Linked DNA regions of Homo sapiens: region 1 is linked to region 2. Evidence: fine-mapped expression QTL. Tissue or cell type: visceral fat. Region 2 holds a variant in brackets; the other region holds the start of a gene. All regions are shown on one strand. Distances are between the middles of the regions.

The links. PIP is the estimated chance that this variant, and not a neighbour inherited with it, causes the effect.
Region 1: HMHB1 starts here. The variant in region 2 is the best candidate, but not a certain one, in a credible set for the expression of HMHB1 in visceral fat (GTEx, PIP 0.88).

What each region holds. Positions count from the first base shown.
Region 1 is chr5:143,810,450-143,814,851 of GRCh38, forward strand. HMHB1 (histocompatibility minor HB-1) reads left to right here and starts at 1,712. Exons shown (of 2, transcript NM_021182.3): 1 at 1,712-1,855. The coding sequence starts at 1,819.
Region 2 is chr5:143,742,675-143,747,076 of GRCh38, forward strand. No RefSeq gene overlaps it. Among named protein-coding and RNA genes, the nearest start is that of MIR5197, 65 kb to the left of the region's middle. The variant A/G (reference allele first, on the strand shown) is at 1,826.

The DNA.
Region 1 (4,402 bases), 68 kb after region 2:
AGGTTGGGGTGCATTATTGGAGTGATCATGGCTTACTGCAGCCTCAAACTCCTGGGCTCAATTGATCCTCTGGCCTCAGCCTCCTGAGTAACTGAGGCTACATGTATGCACCACCGTGCCTGGCTAATTTTTTATTTTTTATTTATTATTTTTTTTTGTGTGGGGATGAGGTCTATGTTGACCAGGCTGGTTTCAAACTCCTGGGCTCAAGCGATCCTGCTGCCTTGGCCTCCCAAAGTGCTGGGAATTACAGGTGTGAGCCACAGTGCCTGGCTAAGATGGAGTTTTATATACAGAATTATCAGGCCTTCTTTCATATCTCATCCTCAATATGCAAATAACTAATTCATTTAGCAAATATTTATTGAACGTCCATTATGTATGAGGCACTATTGTAAGTATTGGAATAAGTGCAGTGAACAGGTCAGATATGGTAACTGCCTGGATGGAGTTTATGTTATAATGGAAGCAAATAGACACAAGAAATATGATCGCATCAGGTATTTATAAGTGTTATGGTGAAAATAATGCAGAGTAATCTAATCTAGGGAGTGAGAGGGTGACTAGGGTCACCCATGTGGTGGCTAGGTGCCTGGGTCTGGCGTTGCACTTCTTCCATTCAAATCCTGGCTCCATGCACCTCTGGCTCTATGGCCTTGTCCAGTTGTGCACTCTCTAAATCCCAGTTTTGTTACCTGTAAAATGGACATATTAACATTACCTACTTTAAAGAGGTGTTTTAAAGAAAATGGCTACTCCTAACATCTCCCCAAGAACCAAGCACAGAATTTTGGAAGTTTTAATATATTTTCTTAAAGAAGTCTCTTTCTCAGCATTGTAAGACAATTAACTAGATTCAAGTCTCAGAGTTGTTAAGTTATTTTATCTTAAGGCATCCAACGGCACAGATTGACATTAAAGTGAAAGAAGAACTAGCTTCATCATTGCCATTGTTCTTTACCATAGCCCATGGGAACACAGGACCCGGCTGACTGAGAAAAGTGAATGAGGGGAATTATATCAGAAATGACAGAGAAGGATGGGCAGGATTTCTGGCAGGCACAGGTATTTCTAAGTAAGAAATGGTGTGGTTAGGAGAGAATACTCTCAAGAAGGGGAGAGATGGATTCTGCGGCAAAGGGAGGTTCCTTCATTCAGTGTTTATGGAGAGAATAAAGGCGCTGGCCCCTCCAGTGAGGATATGGAGTAAACGAGACAATCAAGTCCATCACTCCTGGAGCCTGCATTCTAGTGTGGAAGACAGACAGCAAATGATACATCAACATTAAGAAATTCATGAGTAAATAAAGATAATTTCAGGCAATAATAATTACTCTGAAGAACATAAACAGGGACCTATGATAGAAAAGGGGTGTAAAGGAGTTTGGAGGATTTAAGCTGAGTGAGCAATCTCATCTCTATTTTGATAAGGTCACTGTGGATTCTGTGTGGATAACACATTGGATGTGGATAAGAACAGGAGCAGAGAGACCTCCAATAGCAGGAGGCTGCTCTAGGGGTCCTTGCAAGGGATGCTGGCAGCTTGGACCCGAGTGGTGGGATGCAGATGGAAGAGGCAGGTGGACAGATGAGACAGCTGAAGCAGGAAAAGCAGGCACAAAGGCTAACACAACACAATGTAACAGAACGGGAGTTTAGAACGGAAGGAACACTCCAGAGTCATTCTGGTCCAATTCTGCAGATGAGGAAACCACATCCCAGGAGGCCGAGGCGGCTTGCCCCGCATCTCAGAAGCCGGGCAGGCCCTGAGCCTTCTGACCTCACATCCTCTGCCACACCACAGTGGAGAAACCAGAACTGGAGGAGCAGCCAGAATGCAGAGAAGAAAAAAGAGGTGAGGGAGCGAGGAGGAGGGAGAACAGAGAGAGAGGGAAAGAGGCAGCGAAGGGGCAGAGAAAATGAAAGAAAATGCTGGTGGAATGAGAGGGAAACCACAACAGGTGAAAACAGGGATGGCGGAAGGCAGGGGAGAGGAGTGAGACGGCCCTTGTTGCTGGGATTATTTAGGGCGGATAGTTTCCAGTTGAGGTTCGGTTTCATAGCCCATTGCCTGGCTGCCTGCAGCTGTCAGGGCACCAGAGGCAGCAGTTGGAGCAGCTGCCTGCACCACCTGAGCCACAAGGACAACGGCAAGGGAAGTGCAGATGGGCAGGAAGTCCCTCTGGGTCGGAGCCAGGGTAGCCAAGATCACATTGTTCTTGCCCACCGCGTGGGATGCTCAGGCTTCCCAAGGCAGCCCAGAGACCAGACCCGTCCTTTATCCTTAGCATGGCCACCATCATCACCATCATCGCCATGCTCCCACTTCTTAGGATCATGTGCCGGGGGCTTTGCATGCATTTCTCTCTTTCATCCTCACAGAAGCACTTGAGGGGGGTATAGCTTTCCCCAGTTTACAGATAAAGACACGATGGCTTCATTCCTTAACTCACTAACCTCATTTCAGAGCCAGGAAATGGCAGAAAGGCCCTGCTGTCGTGTTTTTTGTTTGTTTGTTTGTTTTTTTGTCTTGTTTTCTCCTCTTGAAGAGGACACACGGAGCCCTGGGTTGACGTTATAGGAGGTGTTGGTGCCGTGCACTGAAGGGATCTGCTGTTTTCTCCTTCCTGCAACTGGAGGTCACTCAGCCTGGACTGATGAGGCCGGGGAAGCCTGTGCTCTGTCTGGTCCACACAGCCCCCTCAGCCACCCCAGGGAATGCTCAGATCCAGTTGCACAGGTAGCCCACAGAATACAAACAGAACTTTCTTTTAGAATTTTTATGCTGTTTTATTGTTTCATACAGACAACTACCGACCTTCCCTTTTTTCCTTCAAGGCCCCTTTCAAATGTCACCTCTTCTATGAAGGTTTTATTTCTTTCCAGGCAAAATAAACCACTCCCTTTTTGGTGCCCTCATAGTTTTACATTTTGGCCTAAAGCACTTGTTCGCCTCCTCCATCAGAGCATGGGATTCTTGAGGGAAGGAACTGTGTTTTAATCATTTCTGTATCCTTGGCATCTAGCACAGTGCTTGGCACAGTAAAAGCTGTCAATAAATGTTAGCTGAACTGAAAAGTAAAAAATGGAAAGGGCATTTGTTGGGGCCAGCATAAGTCAACTGTTTCCATCCTTGTTTCCTTAACTCAGAAACTCAAATGAAGAAAGACATTGTCAGTCTCATGAGCAGTCCATATTTTTTTTTATTGGTGAGAGATAAAGTAAATGGCATGTGGATTTCCTTTGGAAGAATAACAAATAAAATTCTTTTGTAAGGATGTGAATTATAAAATTAACTTTTTTTATCTCCAGATTGTCATTTTGCAAGGAAAAAAATATAAGTAATAAATATGAACATACCTTTTTTATTTCAGACTTTTGCTCCATAGGCAATAGAAATGAGATGGCCAATTACAGTATTGAAGCAGAAGTACAGATATAACTCAGTGCAGAGGCAAATATGGCACATGATATTTTCATATTTTTATGTGTTACTATGAGTAACACTATTGCAAATTCATTTTATTTATGATTTGGTCTTTGTAGCTCCAATTTCATTATTAACTGAAATTTCATAGCATCATTCTTACTGACATGCATTGAAGATAAAAATGTTCTATATTTTCCTCATCTATCCTTGTCTTTTTCTTTATTAAAAATGTAGCCATTGGCAAAATAAAAGAACTAGCAATAAGCATACTGAAATCACAACTGAGACACATGACAATAATCTATAACCATGACACCTGTCCAGGCTGCATCCAGCCAAATATGGATCCAAAAAAAGGAATACTCATATTTGTTACTTATATTTTTTTCCTTGCAAAATAACAATTTGGAGATAACAAAAAGTTAATTTTATAACTCATATCCTTATAAAATACTTTTATTTGTTATTCTTTGTCTCTCGTCAATAGAAAAAAATATGGACCGCTCATGAAATTGACAATGTCTTTCTTTATTTGAGTTTTTGAGTTAAGGAATAAGGATGGAAACAGTTGACTTACACTGGCCCCAACAAATGCTCTTTCCATTTTTTGCGTTTCAGTTCATAGTAGGAGCTCACTCAGGACTTAGCTGTCAGAGAGAGGACAGTCTGAGGCCTATGTGCACTTCCCAGCACAACATCTCACATCCTCCTCATTTTTTATCACTCAAGATATTGAAAAACTAATATGCAAGGATGCTGTCATTATAGGGGTAATCTTCAATCGTCTCTAATTATATTTAAAATTATGTCATAAACTTCAGAAAGTAACCAGTATTAGTGTATACCTTATTATTAGCATAATCCAAGCTGGCCTCACCTACAAATAGAGTCATAATTATAAAAATTTTATCTTTTAGTCTCCTACTTTCTCAAAATGGAATTTGTCCCCACTAAAAGTTATCCTTCAAAGTA
Region 2 (4,402 bases):
TTTTGCTGTAAGGAAAGGGCAAGTTCATGGGCAGTTAAATCACTTAGAACATTAATGGAGAGGTGGAGGGCTGCCCCCAGCTTCCATGCAGTTTCCTGTCTCTCTGTTGAATCAATGTTGAACAAATATTGAGAGAATCTTTATTTAACTGCATCCTGGTTACCAGTTCTGTAGCGTCCACATGTGTCCCAATCCCATCATTAACCTGGATGTGATGTAGATCCCTCTCTGTGTGCCAGCTCCGTGCCATGGTTCCACATGCATCGACGGAATCACTCTCATTAGGTCGTCCCAATGGAGGGAGGCCAATCGGGGAAAAGTTCAAGAGTTAGAATAATTTTAAGAAATTAGGCTTGATTATTTTCAAGTTTCCACCAACAGGAACTCGTTGTGGGGTTAGAGGGGAAGAGGAGACACTTGTCTTAGAGAACCCTGTGAATGTCTTAATAATCAGATAAGAATCTTGTTTACTTAGCATTTTCAGTATTAGAAAGCAAGTAGGACCAAAGTGAGACTTGAGAACTGTGTGTTCTTCACTGCAGAGATTCTACAAACAGATGTATGCTTAGACTTCATGAACCGTGCAGGAAGGCATTGAGATTCAGTTGGGAAGAGTTTCGGAAGAGACTATGAATGATTAAGCTGGAAAACATCAAAGGAGAATGGATTTCTCCTTAAATGCCCTCTACAATATTATTTGTCTTCAAAATGTTCGAGTGATTTTAATAGTATCCTAGTGTTTATCTTATAAATTCCTCCTCATTCTTTAGAACCCACTTTGGTGCCAGTATCACTGATCAAGAAAGTGATCCCTAATCTCCCCTGCCTCCTAGAATTCATCTGCCCTTTCCACATGCTGATGTCACTACTCTGACCACACTGAATTGTCAGTGGGCTTATTTGCAGGTCTGTCTTCCATACTGGACAGGGAGGTCTTTGAGTCTAGGTATTGGCTTCATTTATCTCTGGGTCCTTATTTCAACCGAGCATTTGGCACACTGCAATTACTTGGTATGTATCTGATTAATAAAGAAACACACTTATCATAAGTACAATATTTATTCTGCAACTTTTGGTGGCCATGAATAAACATGCTGGTTTTCTTTCCGGCTTCAGGTCATAGTTTATTCTAACCTAATTAAATTAACTCATGGATGAGACCACTGAGTTTAAATCATTCTCCCAAGGCTATAGAACTTGTTAGATGGCCCATCCAGGACCAGGACACAGGCATCCAAGGACGCAGGACTCCAAGCCTGGTGCTCTTTCTTTCCCCTTTTCATTTCTGACTTCAAAAAACAGCACATGTTTAGAATAGAATGTTAAAGAACAAAGAAAATTCCTCCTAAATTCAACTACCTAGAGACAACCAACATCAGCATTTTGGCAAATATCCCTTCTAATGTGTGTGTGTGTGTGTGTGTGCGCATGTATACAATTTTACACATGTAACTAGCTATTAAATGGGGTTCTTTGAGTTGTTTCAGAGTGTTAGCTGAGGCCCCAAATCTCAGGACAATGGAAGACAAGTACTCACACATTCTAGAGAGAGGAGCTGGAGCATTCTTACTGAAAGATGTCCAACTGGCTTTCCACTATCAACATCCAGCACCCACTCCAGCCCTTATGCAGTGAGTGGCTAGAGACACTTCTGGGGAAAAATCATTCAACAAAAGGAAACTCACAGGAGGAGGCAATACTGTGGTATGTCTCCTCCTCTCAAGCCCAGTGAAGGATCCAGAGAGAGGGTGAGGTCCCTGCCAGCAGAGGAAAATTGTACCTTACTGCCACAAGTGAAGCTTGCTGCATTGTAACACAGACCTGC[A/G]ATGAAAAGTAATTGCAAAAACTGCAATTACTTTTACACCAACCTAATAGAAGAAAACACAGAGGCTTTTCCTGGTCTGCTCCCTGATTGAAACACAGGAGATTCTTGGGAGAGCTGAAAATGGCCCAGAGTCTAAAGACACAGACACAGAGACGGTGCATGTCTCTCACTGGGAGAATCCCAAAGTCTCATTCAGGGAGAGAAATAATTCCACCAGGAGGAGTGATCCCCTTCACAGGCCAGGGGTGGTGGAATTTCTTTTGAGTCATGTGCATGCCAGGCATCCTGTAAGGAGCCCACTTTTGGCTGCCTATGGAGGTAGGGTGGAGCTGCAAAAAAAACAAAAAAGTAGGTTCATAGATGACTTAAATTAACAGATTACTGATCTTCCTTACCTCCAGCTAGGCTCTGAGCCTCAGGTGAAACCTGATAGTGAGGGGAAGGGCAAAAACTTAAGATGTGAGATTTAGATTTAAAATATGTTTTCAACCTGAACACAATGAAAAAACAGTGAAATATACCAAGATATTGTTGTGGTGGACACATGAAATGCCATGCAGATACCCCTTTAAGTGGAACTCTTGTCCCAGCCATTTGGAGTGCTGTCAGGAGAAAACCTGGCCTTAGCCTCCTGTGGGGATGGCCTCAGCTGGAGAGAGCCTCCTGAGCAAGTCCATCACACCCATCCCAGGGTAGCCCAGATCCCATGACTGAGGCAGAGGATATAGAGGCTTTGCCATTTCAGTCCATTATGGGACCATTTTGTCTCTAGAGCTCCCTAAAGTTGGCCAAGGTGTCATTGTTCTGGCAGGTACCAGAGTTCACCTTCTCCCTGTCCAATCTGTGCCCTTTCCCTCTTTAACAGGTGTTGTTCCCAAGGGCTCTCCGTGATAAACATCTTACAACTAGACTCTGTCTCAGAGTCAAGTTCCTGGAGAATCTTACTTGAGACAATTGTCCAGAGAAGCAAAATCAAACCAAATATGTTTGAAGGGAGAAAAAAAAATAGATATTTCCTACTCATGCCCTACTGATGGCAGTATTCCTATAAACACAAAAATAAAATCAACTAGACATTATCTTTTATAAAATGCTTTTCAAAATTCCTTTTTATTGAGTGTTCAGATATGTCATTCCTTTTTAATGGCTGCATTATATTCCTTTCTAGGAAATGTAACATATTTAACCAACCCTCCCTGTTTAGGCTTACAGGCTATTTCCAAATTATACTATTGCTGCAGGAATCCATGCATACATTTTTGTGTGCTTGTTTAATTATACTTTTATGATATAGTCACAGGAGAGGGATTACTGGGCTAAAGGTATTTTCTTTTTAGATAGTGCAATCCACATTTTATTATAGAAGTTTTATATTAATTTTTACTTCAACCAAGTGTAGATAAATGTGATGCATCTCCATATTCTTGCCAACTCTGGGCATTATTAATCTTGTTCATCTTTTATAATATATTAGGTGGCATTGTTTTATTTATTATCTCTTTATTTACTTATGTTTTCTGAAGAGGTTGAAAATATTTTTATGTATTCATTGGCCAGCCTAACCTCTTGGCTTGGGATCTGGCTCTTCTGTCTTGACACTCCATTTTTACTGGCATCTTTGTATTTTTCCTTGCTTACTTAGAGGTGCTCCTTTTTTAGGTATTAAGAATGTTTCACCACTTGACTGGCAAATAATTATCTGGTTTGCTGTGTGTCTCTTGAATTGGAAAACATTGAATATGGAACATTTTGGCTTTATGCTCCCAAATCTATAGGTCTTTTTCTTTATGGGTTTTATTGTTGGTGTTTCTTCCAATAAGAACAACTGTCTTGCTTATATTACTGATTTTCCTAAAACGTTATTTTCTTTGGGACAAAATTAAATATTTGCCTAGTTATGAATTATAAGAATTCAAATTTATAGTTTTTTGAAGTCATATTATCCATACTAGCATTACTCAAACACACACAACCTGACCATGCCTATATATCATTGTCTTGAGTGCACATTATTATTAATCCAGCCCTATTCCTTTCTCTTATTCAAATTAATAGAGAGATTATTTTGAATGAAAAGTAGCACAAACTTTCTTGGTGACTATCCCAGGTTATAATACTTGTAAGTCAGCATCTCCAAGGCAGCATTTTGATAGGCATTCTTATGACTGCCAAAGTTTCAGCTTCTCTTTCCAAAAAGTGAGGATAATCAGACCTACCTTATGGGATTGTAGTAAAGAATGAATAACATAGATGTAGGGCATCAGAAGAAGCTAATCAATGATATTATTATTATTTTAATTATTAATTTATTTTTCTTCCTTCTTCTTTAAAGAGTTTATAGTTGGATAATGTGGATGAATGCCACATACCTCGTAGACTTGTATCCACAATTCAAAACCCTCAAATTTTTGTAAGTTTGTGAAAAACTCATTTGGTGATGAAACCTGACTTGCACTGACATGAGGTATTTATAGTTTTTATGATCCCATTTACTGGGAATATTCATATACTCATATATTATACTGTAGATCTTAATGGATTTGATTATTGGGTACCTCCCCTTTTATGAATATAAAA